Homo sapiens: one gene and its partners. The protein of the gene in region 2 purifies or fractionates together with the protein of the main gene of each other region. This does not show direct contact. Each region holds a gene or a part of one and is shown on either strand. Other genes may lie near its edges. The genes, in order: ATP11C, ARRDC5, CACNA2D1, BTBD10, ERLIN2, DSG2 and KCTD20.

Region 1 (3,500 bases), on a different chromosome or scaffold from region 2:
CACCATGTAATCGAGAGAAAATTCAGAAGCTAACAAAAGGTGCCGTTTCCCTGAGCAGCATTTCAGTGAAGGTTGGCTCAGTCACAAAAAATAGTTTCAATTTTCAGCAGAAAACAAATTACCTTCAAGGTCTCTCGCTCTTTCTGAGTCTTTTGGTTATACCAAGGTTCATCATTGTATGGGGTACTTTGCCAAACATACTTTAGAGTAGTGCATACTGCAGCTTTGGTCAGTAAGATAAATAAATATACAATCAGGAAAGCATTAATAGATCTGAAAAATAAGATAGCATGGATTTTAAAACCAAAGACATCAGTCAGATATGAATTAAACTACTGAGTCATCTAAAGCTTTTTCTGTGTACGACGCGTAACTACAGCACAAGCCTTTGTGTATTAACCTCAGTTATCATAGCTGCAGCATTACTTTCAAGTGGCAAAATGGAAAAGCTGGCCATGAACTGTTTATTGACCACCAATGCTCCCCCAAGTGCAATGGCTGACTAGCTGAACACACCTTATTAAGGTTCCTGTAAAGTGACAGGAGAGGTACACACATGCACACATACACACACCATTACTTACTCAACCCTTATAGAAAGAGTATCTTGTCTCCATTTCCCTGAATCCTAAATGTTTGGGGTAGAGGGCACGGTAGCAATGTGAAATCCTCAAGCTCGGTGTAGGTTCTTTCAGTTTAAAAGTGGAGCTATGGAAAGGGTGCCAGTGATATACTGGTTATCCATGCCAAATACAGGGTGAGGTCTATAGCAGTGGCAACTGGCTTGAGGATCTACGAGGCACTGCTTCAATAGGTGCCAGGAGACTATTATCTATATTATAGAACCAACTTGCATATAGCAACTAAAGGACTCCAAACCATTAACTCCACTAGCAAAAAGGAATGAATTTACAGTTCAAGTAAACTCTGCCCTTTAATAGCTATGTGAGCTTAGGTAAGTCACATACCATCTCCAAGACCATTTCCTCATCTGTAAAGTGGAGAGGTTAACATGAATTACTTCACAGTGTTCTTCAGAGGACTAAACCAAATCAGACATACAAATCATTGAGCACAGTTTCTGGTACATAAACAAGTGCTTAAAATTGTAGTTGCTATTATAATTGATGTTGTTTTTTGTTATGCTTGTTACTTGGAATTACCAAGAAAGTAACTATTTTAATCAATAATGACTAAATAAATTGTGGCGCATACTAACTTTTCAACAGCAGAACGTTTCTGAGATTTCCCTTGGTAGTTCAAAGCCATTTTGGTTTCCATTCCAGTGTAAACAGCAACTCCTAAGAAATTACAGAATATAATAAAAACTAAGAACTTGTCAACCAACTCCTCACCCAGCTGGCTCTATGAATTTTTAAGTCTATAAAAGTGGGAAATCTAGGCCCTCTTCCACTCACCAGTTGTATATCATTTATAGGATAATTTTAATTATATATAGTATTTGTCATATTTCGTCTTAGTTTACCACGTTATAAATTCCCAACACCTAAATGTAGGTTTAAATTAAATGGCAAACCTGCCATGTTTACTTTTTAATATGCACTATTTATTCACAGCCTTTACAAAGCATATTTTTTGATAGGTGTATCTTAAAAATTGTTCACCATATATCTTCTCGGTATTTTTTAGCGTAGCTCCTTTCAGCAAGAGATTTTCAGGTCCCAAAGACCTAAATAAAAAATGAACACAGCTTATCCAAACAAGCCAATAGCATCAACAACTCTGGGGACAGATTTTGCCCTGACACACACCTATCTCCAAGGGGTTCAGAATGTTATCTGTCTACTTATACCATATGCTTACTCCCCAGGACAAGCTGAAAGGTCCTTCACTCTGAAGTTACTTGAGGGTACAGCACAGATGGAAGCACAGTACGGGAGTAGCCAGCAACACACATAGGCAAAAAAAATACATGGGGGGGGATAAAAGGATTATGAATCATGGATAGCAAGACGAGAACAGAACAGAGCAGCAGATCGCAAGACACAAAAGCAGACAGCCATCAATAAAAGACAGGGAATGCAAACGTCAAGGTGGGAAAAATATACTGACATATTTGGAGAGAATAAACCCTCCTTTTGGGGGATCACTGGGGACCCTGTATTTCTTTAACTTTTTGAGTGTGGCTGTAAAGGCCAAGTGGAAAAGTTGCGGTAATTAATATGATGATAGAAGAGGAAAGAAAGCATCCCTTTTTGTATGAACTGCTTGATAAATTGTATGAAGGCTGATACATACAATTCGTATACATAAAACAATTCGTTTTAATGAAGCCTTTCATTTTACGTAAGTCCAGGTAGTTCTTCCAGCATTTTACCCACTGCTTACTTTCTCAATTACTCTCCCACTGTTCTCCAGTTATAATTCCAATGTTGTCAGCCACTTCACAACCGAGGATAATAAATAACATGGCTAGAACAGGTTTGGGAATATAATCCAAAATGTCTGGAGCTCTGCTATTTTGGAAACCATAAGCATTACTTCTAACAGCCCCCTCCCCACAACACAGAGACCCTATCACCACAACTCTACCAATCACAAGGTTAGTTGCTTATTCACCTTTATATTCCTTTTTTTTTTTTTTTTTTTTTTTTTGAGATGGAGTCTTGCTCTTGTTGCCCAGGGTACAGTGCAATGGCTCAATCTTGGCTCACTGCGACCTTCGCCTCCCGGGTTCAAGAGATTCTCCTGCCTCAGCCTCCTGAGTAGTTGGGATTACAGATGTGTGCCACCACGCCCAGCTAAATTTGTATTTTTAATAGAGATTGGGTTTCACCCCGTTGGCCAGGCTGGCTTCAAACTCCTGACCTCAGGTGATCCACCCACCTCAGCCTCCCAAAGTGCTGGGATTACAGGCGTGAGCTACCGCACCCGGCCTATATTCCTTTCTATAATAGAAAGGTATTTGGCTATTTTAGTTGATTTAACAGAAAAATAGACCCCCCCCCCCAACCAAAGGACAAATTAAAGAAACAGCAAACTTACCTGGCAACAGCCTCAAGACTATTACTGTAGATATTGATTCGCCCAACAAATCTGTAAAAAGAACAAAATTGCAAATGTGTTTTCTACATCCAGGTGAAATCCATGTACCAGAAATATGAGAATGAATGAAAATACAAATAATAAAACAGAGATAGATAAAACTGTGAATGAACTACAAAAGCCTATTATATTTCTGGGGGAAAAAAAGTTATGTTGAATTGATAAGGTGTATAACATTTTCATATAATTTTTAAATAACATGATGGGATTATAGGAGCAGAAACAAAGGTTCTCAATTGATTTTCAAGTTCTGTTTAACATCATGCATGCACACAACACCTCTCTCTTTTATAAGTTTATATAAATAACGTAACTTCTATCTTGGATCATGTGAAGAAAGGTTTCTGGTGCTAAAATACAATTTTCAAAACCGCTAGTTCAGTAGTTCTTACACTTGAGTGTGCATCAGAATCACTGGAGCGCTAATTAAACCA
Region 2 (4,004 bases):
GGAGGCTGAGGCAGGAGAATCGCTTGAACCCAGGGGGCAGAGGTTGCAGTGAGCCGAGATCACGCCACTGCACTCCAGCCTGGGCAACAGAGTGAGATTCCACCTCAAAAAAAAAGAGAAATGTCAATCATGCAGGGAGTTGCTGCTTCCTGATGGTGTCGATGTTCAGATTAAGCACACACTGCCCTGATCAACTTCAGTGCGCACCAGATTTCAGGTCCTGGCCATATCTCTATGTTTTTTCCAATATAGACCAATATAAATGTAGAGTCTTTAAGATGAAAATGAGTGTGTATGCACCTGGGCACAGTGGCTCACAACTGTAATCCCAGCACTTTGGGAGGCCAAGGCAGGCGAATCATGTGAGGCCACAAGTTCGAGACCAGCCTGGCCAACATGGTGAAACCCCGTCTCTACTAAAAATACAAAAATTAGCTAGTTGCAGTGGCACTTGCCTGTAATCTCAGGTACTTGGGGGGCTGAGGTGGGAGAATCGCTGGAACCCAGGAGGCAGAGGTTGCAGTGAGCCGAGATCACACCATTGCACTCCAGTCTGGCTGACAGAGTGAGACCATCACAAAAAATAAAAATAAAATAAATAAAAATACCAAAAAAAAATTAGCAAAGCATGGTGATGGTGCATGCCTGTAATTCCAGCTACTCAGGAGGCTGAAGCAGGAGAATTGCTTGAACCCGGGAGGCAGATGTGGCAGTGAGCCGAGATCGCGCCACTACACTCCAGCCTGGGTGACAGAATGAGACTTTGTCTCAAAAAAAGAAAAAGCCCAGGTGCAGTGGCTCACGCCTGCAATCCCAGCACTTTGGGAGGCTGAGGTGGGTGGATCACGAGGTCAGGAGATCGAGACCATCCTGGCCAACACAGTGAAACTCTGTCTCTACCAAAAAATTAGCTGGGCATGCTGGCATGCACCCGTGGTCCCAGCTACTCAGGAGGCTGAGGCAGGAGAATTGCTTGAACCCATGAGGCGGAGGTTGCAGTGAGCCAAGATGGCACCCCTGCACTCCAGCCTGGGCTACAGGGTAAGACTCCATCTCAAAAAAAAAAAAAAAGAACCAGTGAGGACTACAGGTTTCCCAATCAACCACCCACCCTAAACAACAGTTTTGCCTCCCCTCCTGGCCACTGGGGTCCCCACTTCCCGGAACTCTGAGCTGAGTGATGTCATAGATGGATTACCTCACTAGGGCCAACGAACCGGGAATTTCAGGGACATGGGGGACAGAGAGGAATGTCTCTCTACCCCCCAACCCCCCATGTCTGTGGTGAAGTCGATCGAATTAGTGCTGCCCGAGGATAGAATCTACCTGGCTGGCTCCAGCATAAAAGGGCAGGTGATCTTAACCCTGAACAGCACCCTGGTGGACCCCATAGTGAAGGTGGAGCTCGTGGGAAGGGGTTACGTCGAATGGAGTGAAGAAGCCGGGGCATCCTGTGATTATAGCAGAAATGTTATTTGCAACAACAAGGCAGACTACGTGCATAAGACAAAGACATTCCCAGTGGAGGGTAAGGACGAGGCCAACAGCCACCCCTAGCCATGACAGGAACCTGGGTCTGGAAAATAAACACATCCGAGAGTCAATCAACAAAACTCTAGGGCTATCAGAAATAGGGAGTGGCCTGATTTCTCCCTAGGAGGGAGGCCATGAAGAACAATGACCATCAGATACACAAAACGCAAAAATAACAAGACATAAGGAGCTGATCGGAACCCCGATATTCAAAATGAAGGTTCAAAGTAGTCTCCTTGGAAAATGCTCAATCCAACAACTGCCTTTGAGAGGCCTCTGAGAAGTCTTATTCTTTTACAGATAAGTTTCACTCTGACAGCAAAACCCCAGGAGACAAAGTAGGCAGTCCTGCATTCATGGGGAGAGACAGTGGAGGTGGGCCAGGCACAGTGGTTCATACCTGTAATTCCAGCACTTTGAGAGGCCGAGGCAGGTGGATCACTTGAGGTCAGGAGTTTGAGACCAGCCTGGCCAATATAGCGAAACCCCATCTCTACCAAAAAATACCAAAAAATTAGCTGGGCGTGCTGGCACGTGCCTGTAATCTCAGCTACTTGGGAGGCTGAAGCAAGAGAATCACTTGAACTCGTGAAGGGGAGGTTCCAGTAAGCTGAGATCGCACCACAGCACGCCAGCCTGGGTGACGGAGCGAGATTCCCTCTCAAAAAAAGAAAGATAGTGGAGGTAGAAGAGCAAGGGAGACCTTCCAGAGAAGGAATAACTAGTCCCCAGTTCCACCAGGTCAGATCTGAAATCTGAACAAATGTCAGAGAGTCTGCTGAGTTGTCGGGGAAATTATATGTCCATTGCAAAATGTGTTTGTGGGGATATTCCCAGGTATTAAGCAGTCAAGCAGAACACGTGGCCAACACTTGGCTGAACAAAGTGTAATTTAATTTAATTTATTTCTGTATTTATTTATTTGTATCTTATTTATTTATTTATCTATTTTTTGAGACACAGTCTCGCCCTGCTTCCCAGGCTGGAGTGAAGTGGCACCATCTCGGCTCGCTGCAAGCTCCGCCTCCCGGGTTCAAACGATTCTCCTGCCTCAGCCTCCTGAGTGGCTGGGATTACAGGCACCCGCCACCATGCCCAGCAATTTTTGGTATTTTTAGTAGAGGCAGGGTTTCACCACGTTGGCCAGGCTGGTCTCGAACTCCTGACCTCGTGATTCGCCCACCTCGGCCTCCCAAAGTACTGGGATTACAGGCATGAGCCACCAGGCCTGGCTTATGTATTTATTTTTGAGACAGGGCCTCGCTCTGTTGCCCAGGCTAGAGGCCAGTGGTGTGATCAAAACTCACTGCAGCCCCAGCCTCTCTGGCATAAGCGATCCTCTCACCTCAGCCTCCTGAGTAGCTGAGACCACAGGCACATGGCACCATGCTTGGCTAATTTTTGTTTATTTTTTGTTTTCGTTTTTTTGAGACGGAGTTTTGCTCTTGCTGCCCAGGCTGGAGTGCAATGGCGCAATCTCGGCTCACCGCAACCTCCTGGGTTCAAACGACTGTCTCTTAAAAAAAGAACTAGCAATTTTTTTTTTTTTTGAGACTGAATCTCACTCGTTGCCCAGGCTGGAGTGCAGTGGCGTAATCTTGGCTCACTGCAACCTCCACCTCCTGGGTTCAACCGATTGTCCCGCCTCAGCCTCCCGAGTAGCTGGCACTACAGGCGTGTGCCACCACTCCCAGCTAATTTTGTATTTTTAGTAGAGACGGAGTTTCTCCATGTTGGTCAGGCTGGTCTTGAACTCCCGACCTCAGGTGATCCGCCCACCTTGGCCTCCCAAAGTGCTGGGATTACAGGCATGAGCCACCACACCTGGCCATTTTAGACTTTAAAAATTTAGATGAGATGGTCTGTTCCACCAGAGGAGTACTCTGCAAAGAGGGAACAACCAAGCACAGAACTGAGTGATAGGAGGGACTCCAGCCATGCAAATATCCTGGGGACAAATGTCAACTTACCAGACACTAATACTGAGCAATTATGTGACCTCTCTGGCTCTCAGTTAACCAATCTATAAAATGGGAGTAGGAAGAGGTCCTATTTCATAAGATTGTGTTAAGGACTTAATGATTTAATGGCACATAAAGCGCTTAGAATAATGCCAGGTATACAGTAAATGCTTAAAAATTGCTATTTCTGGCCAGGCACAGTGGCTCACACGTGTTATCCCAGCACTTTGGGAGGCCAAGGTGGGCAGATCACCAGAGGACAAGAGTTCAAGACCAGCCTGGCCAACATGGTGAAACCCCGTCTCTACTAAAAATACAAAAAATACAGCTGCTCAAGAAGCTGAGGCAGAAGAATGGCGTGAACCCGGGAGGCGGAGCTTGCGGTGAGCCGAGATCACGCCACTGCACTCCAGCCTGGGCAACAAAGCGAGACTCCGTCTCAAAAAAAAAAAAAAAAAAAAAAGAAAGAAACAGAAAAAAAAGACTGCTGGCCGGGCGCGGTGGCTCATG
Region 3 (2,417 bases), on a different chromosome or scaffold from region 2:
TAAAAGAAGTCCAAAGTCTGATGAAGTACATTCCTAAGTGCCTTGATGGAGAAGGCATGTTAGAAGGTTAGACTTAAGTAAAGGCATCGCGAGTGAATTGACAGTCATCCCTCTGTGCGTGGGGGGGATCAGTTTCAGGATGCCCACGTGTATCAAAATCAATGCATACCCAAGTCAAGTCTGGAAAGTGGCCCCGCAGAATCTGAGTATACAGAAAGTAGGCACCTGGTATATGTGGGTTTTCCATCTTGCAAATACTGTATTTTCAATCTGCATTTGGTTGAAAAAAATCCACATATAAGTATATCCATGTGGTTCAAACATATGTTGTTCAAGGATTGACTGTATTTGTGTGAGTTGAGGTTTGTAATTGTAAAAGCACTATTTAATCCCAACTTTTATTTCCACAATCCAGAATTCTCTCTTAAAATTATTTATGACAGAGCCATCTGTCTCTTCCAACTGGATCTTTTAAAAAGCAGAAAACCCAAACCGCGTGGTGACTTTAAATGATAAACTTTTATTCTGAATATACTGTTTTTGCACAAGATTTAACACAACATTTTCTGGGATTATAAATATTTTATAACAGTATTATACAAATTTTTACAAAATGTTTTTATCAGGCTAGGTAATTTTCACAAAAGTGTCAAGAGAACAAAATAAAGGGGAGAAAAGATCTATTGTTCACAAAAGCCAGTTGGCCTTTTGCATGAATGCACACCATTTTAATAAAAGTATTCCTAAAAGCATGATCCGACACTCATACAACACAACAAAAAAGACAGCTTTACTAGGTCACATTATAAACTCAACTGGCATCTACACAAGACAGTATCCCATTAGTTTCAGTGGAATTTGAGATAACTGTGTGAACTAGAAATAAGGTAGATGAAGAGTTGTCTAATTCTTCAAAAATCTGGAATTTTTTTCAACACTCAAAACATTATATTGGTTTGCTCTTTACAGAAATGTACTGTGAATATTGACATTCTGCTATGGGAAACAATACAAGTTTAGATGAAAAAATATTTAAAATTTTGGGCAAGTGAAATAGTTATTTCATTCTATTCTTTAAAAAAAGTAACAACATCCATTTTGTTTCACTAGGTCAGACTATACCATTAAACATTTGAACGTCTAACATGATCAATGGAATAGATTCAGAGTTTTAAATGAAGACAAAATCTTAAGCTTTGTTGGTCACAGACAAAGATTTAAATGAGATTTAAAATACAAGAGAGCATCAAATAAGCAAGTAACACTTGGGTTGCAAAGGTCACTTAAAAGGGATACTGCCTATTTGAACCCGATAAGTCCAGTTTTAAAGTTAATAAAAGGAATATTATAGGAAAACTTACAAATGGCAGGAACACTGTTTTTTGTTTTTTTTTTTCCCAAGTTAAGCAGTAACACCTCAAGCATTAGAAACATGAAAAAAGATCATACTAAAATCTTATAGGCCCAGGACCTAAAAATCTCTTCAATCAAACTTGCTAACTATGTCATGTTAAAAACCTGTTACAAATATGGACCACGGTTGGTGTTTGGCAGTAATGCTGGTTGTTTAAATGAGGAAAATAAAAAGAAATCATTAATGCAAAATTCTTTCTTGTTACTCAACACCATTGCCAAGCTCACTTGAACTCTGTTTTAGTGACTAACTACACTAAGCCACATGAGTATAACAAAAATTAGTTAAAGCAGTGTATAAACTTTTTTATTGATCTGTTGTACTGTTCAGTCGTTGGAAATCAATATTAATAACAGGCTATAATTTAAGTTCTTGTCAATGTAACTCAGAAAAATACTAAATGTAATGTAATAATTTGATGGGATGAGTGTTACTGTCTTAAAAAATATGCTAAAAGCATGAAGACTAATATTAGTCATGGGAACAACTTTTATTCAGCTTGTTCTTACCCAATTTGTAATTGCATTTATGGTTGTCATAATATATAACTTTATAGCAGAAAATAAAGGTTTATAGCAAAACTCATGCATATAAATATATTTTGATGGCAACAGAAATTAAATAGGATCCTGCCAAGAGATGCCAAGTTTAACCGCGATTAATACAATAACAATGTAATTGATGAAAACATATACTCGACATTAGCCATGAAAATATATTTAATAGATTTTGAACATAATTTTAAGGTAGTTTGTTGTATGCTGGAAGCAATTCAATTGTTTTAATGTGCATTGTTTATATACACAAACTAACAATTTTATATTTTGATACCCCCTTCCCAACACTATCATGATTTAAGATAGTCTAGCAAAAATTGAACAATAACTTTTAAATATTTAACAAACAACATGATTAAAACATTGTTACTAGAGTGAGAAGTTTTTTTCCCCACATATATTTTAAATCACTTTGGTGTTTTCTAAAATGTCAATACCAGTTATGA
Region 4 (3,500 bases), on a different chromosome or scaffold from region 2:
AAGACACAGATATGCATTATGTAATCCCATATTTACACACAAGAAAAACAAAAACAAAAAAACAGAAAAAAGAAAATTTAAAAATTAAATACACATACACACACACACTCATCCATGCTTGTATATGTTAAGATAAAATGTCTAGAAATATCACATAAAATTAAAACTAGTTGCCTCTGAGAAAATGCTGGAATAAGGAGACTTACTTTTTGTTGTATCCCTTCATACTACTTGAATTTTCTACATATTATTTTCAAAATGATAATATTGAGGAAGGTTTATTAAAAAGTGTTTGGAGGTGATAGTGCTATAGAAATTTTCTTCCTTGTTTAATTTTACTGCTTAAGTGTAGTTTTGTAAATTTTTTTGGATTGCTTAAATATAGTCACTACATATGCATTGATAGAATATGTTTCTGCCACATGTACCCCATTAGACTATAAGATCCTTGAGGGCAAGAACAAAGTATGATTCAGGTTTGTGTCCCCACAGCCTAGCACAATTTGTATGTAAGCTTTTACAAAATGTTAACTACATTAAGAAGAAAGAGGCTGGGTGCGGTGGCTCACACCTGTAATCCCAGCACTTTGGGAGGCCGAGGCAGGTGGATCACGAGGTCAGAAGTTCAAGACCAGCCTGATCAACATGGTGAAACCCCACTGGTACTAAAAATATAAAAATTAGCCAGGCGTGTTGGCGGGCACCTGTAATCCCAGCTACTCAGGAAGCTGAGGCAGAAGAATCGCTTGAACCTGGGAGGTGGAGGTTGCAGTGAGCCAAGATCGCGCCACTGCACTCCAGCCTGGGCAACAGAGCAAGACTCCATCTCAAAAACAAAAACAAAAAAAGAAGAAGAAAGAAACTGAAGGACATTTCACTTAATATAATTTACTAGTGCAGAGGAAATAAGAATTACAAAGATTTATAAGCAGTCTTTAACTTTTAGTTGTCTTAAAAGAATACTGTCATATACCTGTACTCATGTTTTAGTTATTGCAAAGAGCACCAATCATGTGACTCTCACTCTCAAATAAGCAAAAATTATAACAATTCAATTTCTAATGCTCTCAGGAAATACATATCAAGATAGTGGGGATAAAAGACAGAAAATATCACATCCCTGAAAACATTTTTCAAGCTATTACCAAACAAGCCCTAAGTTTCCCCAAAACATTCCTCAAAGATGTGCCTATTTAAATCTCACAGAAGCCCTTTCAATTGTTAAGGCTTGACCTTTTCTGATTTGTTACAGTTAAAACAAGACAAGCTTAGCTGAGAACTTTATTCAGGATATTTTTATAACCAATTGAATTGTAAGTATCTAATTTCACCATATAAAATTAAAGTGGCCAGGTATGGTGGCATGCACCTATAATCCCACCTACTTGGTAGGCTGAGACAGGAGGATTGCTTGAACCCAAGAGTTCAAGGCAAGCCTGGGTAACATAATGAGACCCCCAGGTCTAAAAATAAAAAAATAAATTAAATAAAAATTTTAAAATTAAAAAGATTTTTAAAAATAAAATAAAATTTATTTATTCTTTCATTCAAAATTTATTTATTGAGTACTTAAGCACCTTTCAGGCATTTTGATAACTGCTAGGGAGACTCTAACAAACAGATTTAATAAAACTGCATGGTATTTCCATTAAAAGTAGGATCTGTTGTTTATTTATTTATTTGTATTTAATTATTTATGTATTTAGAGACGGAGCTTTGCTCTTGTTACCCAGGCTGGGGTGCAATGATGCAATCTCAGCTCACTGCAACCTCTGCCTCCCGGGTTCAAGCAATTCTCCTTCCTCAGCCTCCCAAGTAGCTGGGATTACAGGCGTGTGCCACCACACCTGGCTAATTTTGTATTCTTTTTAGTAGAGACAGGGTTTCACCATGTTGTTCAGGCTGGTCTCGAACTCCTGACCTCAAGTGATCTGCCTGCCTTGGCCTCCCAAAGTGCTGGGATTATAGGCATGAGCCACTGCGCCCAGCCCTGTTGTCCACTTAAAGGGTGATCTCTAATTCACCAAGATGTTAAGACTTCCAAAGTCAGCTCAGTCAACCCTTAATGTTCCAGAGGTGATTTGGATATAAAATCTTTGTGCTAATTGATTTTATCACTTTTATAGAATTTCTATTCAAATTTTGCTGACTTCTTAATTAACACATTAACACTTCAATAAATGAAGTGTTATTCATTTGTTTCTTTCCCATCACAAACAGCTCAATAAATGTTTGAAAATCTTTCCATATTTTAAGCATTTACAAAGTACCTACATTACATGATTAGCATTGTTAAGTAACTAGACACTGTTTAGTTTATAGGCTACCTTCTTAAAACTCAAAAGGCATATTTTTTTAATATCCTAAAGAAATAACAATGTTTTAATTTTCTACTATGACCAAAAAGTGTTGACTTCAAAACCAGAAACACCTTAGTTGAAGCAAACCATCTTGACATAATATCAATTAATACAGGCAATGCTCCTGAAGCTGATGCCTAAATCAAAGGAGATTATGGTCAACTCCTAAGAAGCAACACCCTTTAAACAAAGTCAGACAATATTTTAAACAATATTTTTTCCTTCCATGATGCTTTATGTTTTTTCATATAACCTTTATTATGCTGTTCCATTTTGACCTATTCATTATTCCCCTTACCTTCCATTCCTTTCCGATTTTTGTCTATCAGCCATCAATTCAACAGGCTAGTAAAGGCTCTATTAAATATGATTCAAGTTCTAGACTGTAGCACTCACTGCTCAGCGCGACTTTCCATTATCACAACAGTGTGATAATGGAAATGTTCTACGTCTGCACTGTCCGAAAAGTTTAAGGAATCTAAAATTTGCCCTGAGACAAAACACTTGCTCACAAAGAAACATTTTACACATCTTTGTGTCTTGGTACTATAGGTAGCATTCCACTTTAATAAAATTAAAAATGTTGTTATATTCAAAGATCTTTGAATTAAGGTTCATTTCAATAATTGAAAGTCTGTGGTGCATGAATAGACAAACCAACCAATAGAAGAGAATTAAAGGCCCAGAAACAGAGCCCTAAAACATAAAGAACTTCAATATATGATGAAGTGATAGCTCAAGTCATCGAGAAAAGACAGACACTAATAAATGGTATTGGGACAACTGAATAAACATTCAGGAAAACATGAAACTGAATTCGTACCTCATACCACATACAAGGATATACTCCAAATGAAATCAACTATCTAAATGTAAAAACTGGAATCATACAAATACTAGAAAAATTATGGGTGATTTCACTGACAACCGGGAAGGAGAGAAAGCCTTTCCTATTTGCCTACGAAAAACACCACTACTTGCAAAAAGCACAGAAAAAAATAAAGTTTTAAAAACAAGTAATTTTTTTAAAAGGGCTAATTTCATAGTATATAAAGAGTTCCTTAAAGAAGGAAAGAAAAAGACAATTTCTCTTCTCCAAAACAGACAATGCACAAAGAAATGGGCAATCCTCAGAAAAAT
Region 5 (3,500 bases), on a different chromosome or scaffold from region 2:
GGCAGCTAGTATTGCTTCCTTGCATGGATACATAGGAGGGATACATTATAGATTAATAAATGATAGTGAGATAAACAAAATGATCTGTTGTGTATCTTTTACTTTACATTTGCTATTTACAGAGGAGTGTTGTATACATAGGTATTATTTTATGTCACACTGCTTCAGTGATAACTATATCCATGTGTTTGTATCCATGTTTTTATCCATTCAACTGTATTAAAAGGTGTTGGGACAGGAAAAAAAGTTGTATTACTAAGTACACACAAAGAGGTTCTTCAGGTAAACTTCAAAGTATTAGATAATACTTTAATAACATGGGCAAAGAGGATGCGGCAGAGTAAGAAGTGATGAAAATTATGCAGCTTCATGTTTAAAGTCTGGGCTATAAGAGTCCTGAGAGAAGGAAAGTATAGAAGAACCTTCTGAGTTGAAGGGCCAGGACTAGAGACATGAGCTCCTCCTTTATGGATATGACAGATTCTAAGCCAAGTAGTGCTTGCTAGCAAGACTGAGATGTAAAAATAAAAAAGTTTCAAAGCAAATATATTTCCCCAGCTCCTCCATACAAGCAGCTGTACTTCACTAAGCTACCAAGTTTAGCTGTAAGAAAGTAAGAAGTTTGCTAATGAAAAACAACTTTGTATTTTAATTTCCTCTTCAGGGACATTAGGGATCCTTTGTCTTTTTTCAGTGCTTTGAAATGTTCATGTAATGTCACAAGTCCTAAGACAATGGCTAGAGAAAATTAATATTTTATAAAATTCTATTAGTTTGAGGTTAAAAAGAAAAATCAACGGCAAATTTACCAACTTTTTCTTAAAAGCACAGTGAATCCAAAACAGATAAAAGACTACAAACCCTATAAAATGAATTTAGATTCATTTTCTACTGCAGAAACATTAAAAGTAATTTGGATGATTTCCTAAATCTTAAATGGTGCAAAAGGCGGTTTGCTTAATTATGATTGCTGGCGATGTGGATGAGTCCTCCTGTCTGCTATGAAAAATGTTCTTGCTCAGGGTCCCTTTTATGAAGATTCCTGGGAAAAATCATTTTCCAGTCCTAGTGTCAAGAACAGTTATACTATTGGTTAAAAATTCATTTACTTTTGGCATTGGCTATTAGAGAATTTCTGGCAGTGAGTTTAAACAGAATACTTGACTGCAAACAAGTTATAACAGTTACCCAACTGTGTCCTTCCTTTGCTGCTAAGTCAGGTTGCCTTTACTTTGAAAAAGGTAAAAAGGACAAAACATATCTACTTAGGCACGTGGAATCTTTTTGTTTAAAGTGTTTTTCTATTCGTTGCTACAGGTACAGAGTAAAAAAATAATAATCACAAAGGTTCTGAGAACTGGAAGGAGCTATGGTTCTCATCTCACTTCTAGAATTAACTATGAATCATGTCTTTTTCATCACCCATTCCTGGGGGCCCTCCATTCAGTGTTGCATGGTGAGAAGAATGCTGAAGAGCCAGGAGAGGAAGGCTCCTGTTTCAGCCCCACTACTAATTGGCATCTGGCTCTGTGACTTTCTTGCTTTGGGTCACAGTACCCTCAGCTTAAAATGAGGATGCTGGTCTGGACAATCTCTAAGGTTCTTCTAGAATGGACCTTGTCTTCATTATAGAATGATAGTTTAGGAACAGTGGGAACACATTTCCACTCCAGCCTCTGATTGAGGCCAGAAGTGAATACTCTACTCCACTATGGTCCCTGTGCCCAAAGCTCCAGCCCTCTAAGGATCTTGTTGCATAGCTATCAGCATTCTCCATGAACTCCTTTGTGACCAGCTCCTGAGCACAAGATTCTTTAACATTTCCTGTCCATAAGTGACCATCACACCCTGCAGGCAGCCAGGCTTTAGGCAGTGGAGAGACGCGGGGTTCCAGGAACCCTGCTTAAGCACGGCATGCTCAGGAGAGACTTTCTTACCAAACAGCTCAATGTAGACCTCTTGAAGCGTGTGCACACTGCAGAACTGGTTCAGTTCGTGGTGGATCTTGTTGAAGATGAGGGCCTTGTCATAGTCAGCAGTATAGTTCTTCACTATATCATACACTGAGAGGGAAGGAGAGGGCTTGGCATAAGAAAAGGCAAGACTCAAAATGCCCTCAGACACGGCAGCTCTCCTTTTCCAAGGTGCTACAACAGACACGGGAGTGGCATGCTGGGGAAAGTGAGCTGGTGGTGGGAATAAACTGTTAAGACGTACCTGCGTTCGGGACCAGGAAGTTCACCACTTCAATTCTGTCAAAGTAGATCATCACACCACCACTATTGGAGGGAGAATGGACAAGAAGTCACTGGGAAGCCTTAGAATATGGTGCAGTCCCCCAGGGTGATGGCGTAAGATGTGGGGCTTGGCAGAAAAGGAGTAGAAGAGTTCACGGGAAGTTGGAAGGCAGCTTGGATCTCCAAGTGGGAGGTTCTGCAGGGCTCATGGCAACAACATACTCTCCTGAGAAATCACACTGCCTAGGAACATCTCTACAAAGACATGAATGAGACTTTTGGGGACCAGTACGAAAGAGTAACTCATATCTTTGGAATCAGCAATGCCTTTTGATTAATCAGTTGCACGGAAAAGACTAAGGAGGGTCAAGGTGAAGTTTTCAGAACTTAGAAGGTTACTGTGGAATGTTATGATCAATGTTTCTTAAACTGTCTTCACTATTACTTTGGTGTCACACTCCCTTTGCCCTCAAATATTTATTATAAAAAGATTTCAAACATAGAGAAGCCGAAAGAGTAGTATAACTAACATCCATATCCAGATACCTGAATTCAACACTGATAACATTTTACCTTATTTATTGACCTTTTTTTTTTCTGAACATTTCAAAGTAAGCTGCAGTTAGGATACTTTACTCCTTTACTTTGGTGAGCACTGTCTTAAGAATAATCATTCTCCTACACACTCATGGTATCATTCCCAAGCCTAAGAAAATTAGCAATAATTCTGTAATATCACCTAATACCCAGTCCTTATTCAGATTTCCCCAACAGTTTGTGTTATGGACTGACCTGTGTATGCCTCGCCCCCAGATTCATATGTTGAAGCCCTAACCCCCAATGTGACTGTATTTGGAGATTAGACCTTTAAGAAGGTAATTAAGGTTAAACAGGTCATAAGGGTGGGCTGTAATCCAAAAGGTCTGGTATCCACCAAAGACCTTTTTCTCTCTTCTTGCACATACAGAGGAAAGGCCTTGTGAGGATGTGACAAAAAGGTGGTCACCTGCAAGCCAGAAAGAGAGGTCTCACCAAAACTACCCCTGCTGTTACCCGGATCTTGGACTTTGGGCCTTCAGAATGGTGAGAAAATATCTATTATTTTAGTCCCTTGGTGTGTAGTCCTCTGTCATGGCAGCCTGAGTGGACTCATATAGTTTCTGTCGTATCTGTTATAGCTGTTAATTTTGAACCAGGTTCTAATCAATGCTCACCCTTGCTTCTGTTTATGTTTCTTGTAAGTCTCTGTCCAATCCAGCATCC
Region 6 (3,166 bases), on a different chromosome or scaffold from region 2:
TGGTCACTGAAAGAGTAATACAGCCTCATGGGGGTGGATCGAATCCTCTGGAAGGCACTCAGCATCTTCAAGATGTACCTTACGTCATGGTGAGGGAAAGAGAGAGCTTCCTTGCCCCCAGCTCAGGTGTGCAGCCTACTCTGGCCATGCCTAATATAGCAGTAGGACAGAATGTGACAGTGACAGAAAGAGTTCTAGCACCTGCTTCCACTCTGCAATCCAGTTACCAGATTCCCACTGAAAATTCTATGACGGCTAGGAACACCACGGTGTCTGGAGCTGGAGTCCCTGGCCCTCTGCCAGATTTTGGTTTAGAGGAATCTGGTCATTCTAATTCTACCATAACCACATCTTCCACCAGAGTTACCAAGCATAGCACTGTACAGCATTCTTACTCCTAAACAGCAGTCAGCCACAAACTGACCCAGAGTTTAATTAGCAGTGACTAATTTCATGTTTCCAATGTACCTGATTTTTCATGAGCCTTACAGACACACAGAGACACATACACATTGATCTTAAAATTTTTCTCAGTCACTGATATGCAAAGGACCACACTGTCTCTGCTTCCAGGAGTATTTTAGAAATGTTCCACAATTTACTGAAGACATAGAGATGATGCTGCTGCTTAGGTGCCTTTTAGCAAGCTATGCAAACAATCCTGATAAAACAAGATACATAGAGAGTCAATCTGGCTTCTGAGAATTTACCAAGTGAACAGAGTACCTAGTTCATCAGCCGTCCAGTAAAGCAACCCAGGAAACTGACTGGGTCTCTTTGCCTACCGTATTAACATTAAACATTGATGTTCTGTATTCTGTACTTTACTGCACCCAGCAGACTTTCAACAACTCATTGATCCAAAGATACATGCACAGTCTGAGCACCAGCTATGGTGCTCATAACTTCTTTAAGACTTGAACCCTTTCAATCTGTGTGATTCATTAAATTGGACCATTGATGATAAGAATACACATTGTATGTTTCTGTGCACATGACAGTGTGTGTGTGTGCACGTACATACTGTATAGTCTTAAAAATAGCATTATACTGGCCAGGGGTGGTGGCTAACGCCTGTAATCCCAGCACTTTGGGAGGCCGAGGCGGGTGGATCAACTGTGGTCAGGAGTTTGAGATCAGCCAGGCCAACCTGGTGAAACCCCGTCTCTACTAAAAATACAAAAATTAGCTGGGCGTGATGGTGGGCGCCTGTAATCCCAGCTACTTGGGAGGCTGAGGCAGGAGAATCACTTGAACCCGGGAGGCGGAGGTTGCAGTGAGCCGAGATCGCACCATTGCACTCCAGTCTGGGCAACAGAGTGAGATTCCGTCTCAAAAAAAAAAAGAAAAGGAAAAAAAAATAGCATTATACCTCTTCCTTGTCTCAACCGCCATGAAAATTCTGAACACTCCAAATTCAGTTGAATAATCCAAAACAAAATTTATAAGTATAAAATAATTTTACTTCTTATAGTAATAGTATACTTTAAAAAGCCTCAGGGTATATTATCTTCTAAACAGCTACAATTCAGTGCAGCTACATTAACCAACTATGTTCTCTAGTTGAGAACAACTAGGCCTATTTCACTGCTGTGTAGCCTCAGTGCCTAACATGGGTGCCAAATAAATATTCGTAGAATTACACTGAATTGTAAAAACCATTCGTTTTTGTTTACAATTGCCAAAAATCTCAAAAGGCCCTGTATTTATGTAATTCTTTGAAATTATTATTTTATTTTGATTTCTCAGTTATTGACTGGCTGGGTGTGACTTAGTACATAAGTACTCAATATTATAAAAACCTCAAATAATTGACTTGATTTTACACAACATCCTTCCCTTTTCTACAAGTTAATTTTTTTACAAATCATTTGGGTTATCTCCTAAATAGGTTATATTTTATTGCTTCTAGAAACAATGTTTCAAAATATATGTGCATTATCAGTAATAATTTGTATAAATATTTCCCACAACAATTTTCATAATTTTCAAAGACTAATTTCTTGACTGAAGATATTTTGCTAGGGAAGTGAAACTTTAAAATTTTGTAGATTTTAAAAAATATTGTTGAATGGTGTCATGCAAAGGATTTATATAGTGTGCTCCCACTAACTGTACAGATCAGGACACATATTTTTAGACATCTAAGTCTGTAGCTTAAATGGAGGTTACTCTTCCATCATCTAGAATTGTTTACTTAGTAATTGTTGTTTCTTTTATTATTATAGACTTACTATCAGTTTTATTTTGCCAAGTATGCAACAGGTATATCACTAGTATATGAAAATGTAAATATCACTTGTGTACTCAAACAAAAGTTGGTCTTAAGCTTCCACCTTGAGCAGCCTTGGAAACCTAACCTGCCTCTTTTAGCATAATCACATTTTCTAAATGATTTTCTTTGTTCCTGAAAAAGTGATTTGTATTAGTTTTACATTTGTTTTTTGGAAGATTATATTTGTATATGTATCATCATAAAATATTTAAATAAAAAGTATCTTTAGAGTGACCCTTTCCCCATAGATTTTTATTTCTCTATTATATTTTACAAGGAATATAACTCAGTTTGTTAGGGAGAGTGCCTTAAAGGCAGGTGTTTCTTGGACTTTGTTATTTAATTAGATCTGCTTGCAATAAAAAAAGTTGTCGGTTATCTAAAATTCAAATTTATCGGGGTACTTGGCATTTTCATTGTCCAACTCTGGCAACCTTGTTCCTAAGGAAGTGAAGGTTGCTCTCTGCCCAGAGTAACACTGGAGAAATCTGTTGGGTCTGGCAGAAGAAGGCTAGTATATCTAACCCAAAGAGATGAAATCATTCTACCAATGTTTGAGAGGCTGTTTTAATTGCTTGTTATAGTTTAGAAGGGAAAAGATCAGAGTTGCTGCTATAAGAGAAGAAAAACAAATTTTCTTCTAGGTCCCCAGCTGGGGCTCTGTAACAAAACACAGATTAACAAGAGAAAAACAAACATTAGTCTGTTAACATGTGTATCTCATGCATGCTTTGGAGTAACTGGAATGAGCAGCTCAAAGGGGTGGTTAGAACTTGGGTGTAAAATGTTAAAAGAAGAGCTTTAAACAAATTAAATCTAACAGTTTACTTAAGCAAAGAAAGGTTCACAAAATTGGGCTGCCCTGGAACTAGAAAAGGTTCGGAGAACTCT
Region 7 (3,500 bases), on a different chromosome or scaffold from region 2:
TGATTGGTGCATTTATAATCCTTTAGCTAGACACAGAGCACTGATTGGTGCGTTTACAATCCTTTAGCTAGGCAGAAAAGTTCTCCAATTGCGTTTACAATCCTTTAGGCAGAAAAGTTCTCCAAGTCCCCACTCGACCCAGGAAGTCCAGCTGGCTTCACCTCTCATCTTCACATTGTCATCCCTCTGTTTATGTGTTCTACTCGCCCCATTTTGAGGACTCCAGACATATTGGATTAGGGCCCACCTTAATGACTTCGTTTAAAAGGCACTGTCTCCAAATACAGGCACATTCTGAGGACTAGGGGTTAGGGCTTCACATATGAATTTTGAGGGAGACACAGTTCAGCCCCGACAATCTGTTTAAGAAGTTATGTGTTGGTGGCCGGGCGCGGTGGCTCACGCCTGTAATCCCAGCACTTTGGGAGGCTGAGGCGGGCGGATCACAAGGTCAGGAGATCGAGACCATCATGGCTAACATGGTGAAACTCCGTCTGTACTAAAAATATAAAAAATTAGCTGGGCGTGGTTGCAGGCGCCTGTAGTCCCAGCTACTTGGGAGGCTGAGGCAGGAGAATGGCGTGAACCCAGGAGGCGGAGCTTGCAGTGAGCCGAGATTGCGCCACTGCACTCCAGCCTGGGCAACAGAGTGAGACTCCGTCCTAAAAAAAAAAAAAAAAAAAAAAAAAAAGAAGTTATGTATTGGGGCCGGGTGCAATGGCTCCTGCGTGTAATCCCAACACTTTGGGAGGTGGAGGCAGGTGGATCATCTGAGGTCAGGAGTTTGAGACCAGCGTGGCCAACATGACGAAACCCTGTCTCTACTAAAAATACAAAAATTAGCTGGGCACGATGGCACGTGCTTGTAATCCCAACTACTCGGGAGGCTGAGGTAGGAGAATCGCTTGAACCTGGGAGGCAGAGGTTGCAGTGAGCTGAGATTGTGCCACTGCACTCCAGCCTGGGTGACAGAGTGAGACTCTGTCTCAAAAAAAAAAAAAAGAAAGGTTATGTGTTGGGTAATCTGAATGCTCGTTTCCTTCATCACTATGTCCTACGCCATGAGGCCCAGGCAGCATTCTTTTTCACGTGACTGGCTTTACCTGTTCTTCAGAACCATGCTTACTTTTGTATACCCTGAGAAGCATATTATGCCTCTGTATAAATCATTGTGTTATGTTATATTTAAGATTATCCTGTTAGCCTACTGAATAATGTGCTTGAAAAACTATTCCATACATTAACTTAAATTCCTAATTCATCTATTAAGCTCATTTCTTCTTTAATCTAGATGGAAGAATGTCAAACTATTTTATGTGATAATATATTGTTTTCTGATTAAACTTTAAAAATTTTCTCTTAAACTGTTTCAAGCAGTTTTAAAAATTTATTTTATCTTATTTTACTTTTTAAGAGTTAGAAGTCTTGCTGTGTTGCCCAGGCTGAAGCATAGTAGCTATTCACAGTCTTGATCCCACTACTGATCAGCACAGGAGTTTTGACTTGCCTGTTTCCAGCCTGGGTCAGTTCTCCCCTCCTTAGGCATCCTGGTGGATCCCTGCTCCTGGGAGGTCACCATTGATGCTAAATTTGGTGCAGACACCTGATTGACATAGCGCACTACAGCCCAGAACTTCTGGGCTCAAGTGATCCTCCCACCTCAGCCTCCTAAGTAGCTGGGGCTACAATAGTGTGCCATGGAACCTAGTTACAAGCAGTTTTTAAGAAACCATTCCAATGATTCCAATGTTTTCTTGAGAAGGTATCTGTTTTTAGAGATACATTTTCATTTTTCCTTATTTTAAAGATAATAACACATTCATTTTAGAGACTTTAGAATATTCAGTAAGACAATAACTTTTTAAAAGAAAAGTCACGTGATTCTACAGTTAAGGGAGAATAATCTTTTCCATCTTTTTTCTGTGGATACATTTATTGTTTCAACTTGCCTTTTAAAAATCTAATATATCAATACTATTTCACACTATTTCAGTTATTTTCTTTTCTGAAATAAGGTCTTGCTCTGTCACCCAGGATGAGGTGTAGTGGCAAGATTTCAGCTCACTGCAGCTTTGACCTCCGGGCTTAAGCAGTCCTCCCACGTCAGCCTTGCCCAAGTAGTTGGGACTACAGGTATGTGCCACCACACCCAGCTAATTTTTTTATTTTTTGTAGAAACGAGGTCTCACTGTGTTGTCCAGTTTTGTCTTGAACTCCTGGGCTCAAGCGATCCTCCTGCCTTGGCCTCCCAAAGTGTTAGGATTACAGGCATAAACTGCTGCACCTGGCCCTATTTTAGTTATTTTCAAACAGATTTCTATTTATTTATTTAGAGACAGAGTCTCACTCTGTCACCCAGGCAGTGCAGTAGTGCAGTCTCAGCTCACTGCAACCTCCTCCTCCCCGGTTCAAGTGCTTTTCATGCCTCAGCCTCCTGAGTAGCTGGAATTACAGGTACACACCACCATGCCCAGCTAATTTTTGTATTTTTAGTAGAGACAGGGTTTCGCCATGTTGACCGGGCTGGTCTCAAACTCCTGACTTCAAGTGATCTGCCCACCTTGGCCTCCCAAAGTGCTGGGATTACAGGTGTGAGTCAATGTGCCTGGCCTATTTTTTTAATTGGTGAATCATATGAATTGATTTTTGAATGTTAAACCAATCTTTGCCATAATGTATTATCCTTTTTTATGTGGCTGAATTTGATTTTCTCATAATTTGTTTAGGATTTTTGTGATTATGTTCATGAGAAAGTTTGATATAATTTCTTCGTTAAAAGTGTGGGAAAATTTGCTAGTCAAGCCATTGGATTCTGGAAAAGTTTTAATTATCAATTAAATTTCTTTACTAGATATAGGACTTTGCAGATTTTCTAATTTTTCTAAGTCAGTTTCAATAAATTATAGAATATTCATTTAATCTGCAAATTCTAATTTACTGGCATAAATTGTACAAAATAACTGCTCATCTTTTTAGTCTCATGGGATGTGTACTGATAGTCTTTTTTCATCTGTGATCATTGTAGTGTGCATCTTCATTTTCTTTTTTTTTTTTTTTTTTTTAGATGAAGTCTCACTCTGTTGCCCAAGCTGCAGTGCAATGTCGCTATCTTGGCTTACTGCAACCTCCGCTTCCCGAAGCGATTCTACTGCCCCAGCCTCCTGAGTAGCTGGGACTACAGGTGTACACCATGACACCTGGCTAATTTTTGTATTTTTAGTAGAGATGGGGTTTCACTATGTTGGCCAGGCTGGTCTTGAACTCCTGACCTCGTGATCCGCCCGCGTCAGTCTCCCGAAGTGCTGGGATTACAGGCGTGAGCCACCGCGCCCAGCCTTATTTTCTTTTTAAAACAACTTCACTGAGAGAGAATTCACATAACATACAATTCACTCATATAAAGTATAGAGTTGAGTGGTTTAGTATATTCAAAGTTGTGCAGACATTACCACCATTATTTCTTTCTTGATCAGTTTTTAGGGCTTATCAGTTTTCTTAGC

The links.
Region 1: the proteins of ARRDC5 (region 2) and ATP11C purify together in Homo sapiens (affinity purification with mass spectrometry; one large-scale study listed by BioGRID and IntAct). This does not show direct contact.
Region 3: the proteins of ARRDC5 (region 2) and CACNA2D1 purify together in Homo sapiens (affinity purification with mass spectrometry; one large-scale study listed by BioGRID and IntAct). This does not show direct contact.
Region 4: the proteins of ARRDC5 (region 2) and BTBD10 purify together in Homo sapiens (affinity purification with mass spectrometry; one large-scale study listed by BioGRID and IntAct). This does not show direct contact.
Region 5: the proteins of ARRDC5 (region 2) and ERLIN2 purify together in Homo sapiens (affinity purification with mass spectrometry; one large-scale study listed by BioGRID and IntAct). This does not show direct contact.
Region 6: the proteins of ARRDC5 (region 2) and DSG2 purify together in Homo sapiens (affinity purification with mass spectrometry; one large-scale study listed by BioGRID and IntAct). This does not show direct contact.
Region 7: the proteins of ARRDC5 (region 2) and KCTD20 purify together in Homo sapiens (affinity purification with mass spectrometry; one large-scale study listed by BioGRID and IntAct). This does not show direct contact.

Annotation. Positions count from the first base shown.
Region 1 is NC_000023.11:139,797,054-139,800,553, forward strand, and holds part of ATP11C (phospholipid-transporting ATPase IG), read right to left. Parts: intron 3,058-3,500; coding exon 3,007-3,057; intron 1,691-3,006; coding exon 1,626-1,690; intron 1,302-1,625; coding exon 1,220-1,301; intron 274-1,219; coding exon 123-273; intron 1-122. UniProt on the Homo sapiens protein: Catalytic component of a P4-ATPase flippase complex which catalyzes the hydrolysis of ATP coupled to the transport of aminophospholipids, phosphatidylserines (PS) and phosphatidylethanolamines (PE), from the outer to the inner leaflet of the plasma membrane.
Region 2 is NC_000019.10:4,900,097-4,904,100, reverse strand, and holds the start of ARRDC5 (arrestin domain-containing protein 5), read left to right. Parts: upstream 1-1,204; 5' UTR 1,205-1,275; coding exon 1,276-1,528; intron 1,529-4,004. UniProt on the Homo sapiens protein: Plays an essential role in spermatogenesis. May be involved in the anchoring of the sperm head to the tail during spermatogenesis by affecting SEC22A-mediated SUN5 and NDC1 transport and localization.
Region 3 is NC_000007.14:81,945,944-81,948,360, forward strand, and holds the end of CACNA2D1 (voltage-dependent calcium channel subunit alpha-2/delta-1 isoform 1 preproprotein), read right to left. Parts: 3' UTR 501-2,417; downstream 1-500. UniProt on the Homo sapiens protein: The alpha-2/delta subunit of voltage-dependent calcium channels regulates calcium current density and activation/inactivation kinetics of the calcium channel. Plays an important role in excitation-contraction coupling.
Region 4 is NC_000011.10:13,453,223-13,456,722, forward strand, and holds part of BTBD10 (BTB/POZ domain-containing protein 10), read right to left. Parts: intron 1-3,500. UniProt on the Homo sapiens protein: Plays a major role as an activator of AKT family members by inhibiting PPP2CA-mediated dephosphorylation, thereby keeping AKTs activated. Plays a role in preventing motor neuronal death and accelerating the growth of pancreatic beta cells.
Region 5 is NC_000008.11:37,743,134-37,746,633, reverse strand, and holds part of ERLIN2 (erlin-2), read right to left. Parts: intron 2,280-3,500; coding exon 2,218-2,279; intron 2,064-2,217; coding exon 1,938-2,063; intron 1,066-1,937; coding exon of another isoform or gene 1,031-1,065; exon of another isoform or gene 84-1,030; intron 81-83; exon of another isoform or gene 1-80. UniProt on the Homo sapiens protein: Component of the ERLIN1/ERLIN2 complex which mediates the endoplasmic reticulum-associated degradation (ERAD) of inositol 1,4,5-trisphosphate receptors (IP3Rs) such as ITPR1.
Region 6 is NC_000018.10:31,546,343-31,549,508, forward strand, and holds the end of DSG2 (desmoglein-2 preproprotein), read left to right. Parts: coding exon 1-401; 3' UTR 402-2,666; downstream 2,667-3,166.
Region 7 is NC_000006.12:36,449,500-36,452,999, forward strand, and holds part of KCTD20 (BTB/POZ domain-containing protein KCTD20), read left to right. Parts: intron 1-2,015; exon of another isoform or gene 2,016-2,133; intron 2,134-3,500. UniProt on the Homo sapiens protein: Promotes the phosphorylation of AKT family members.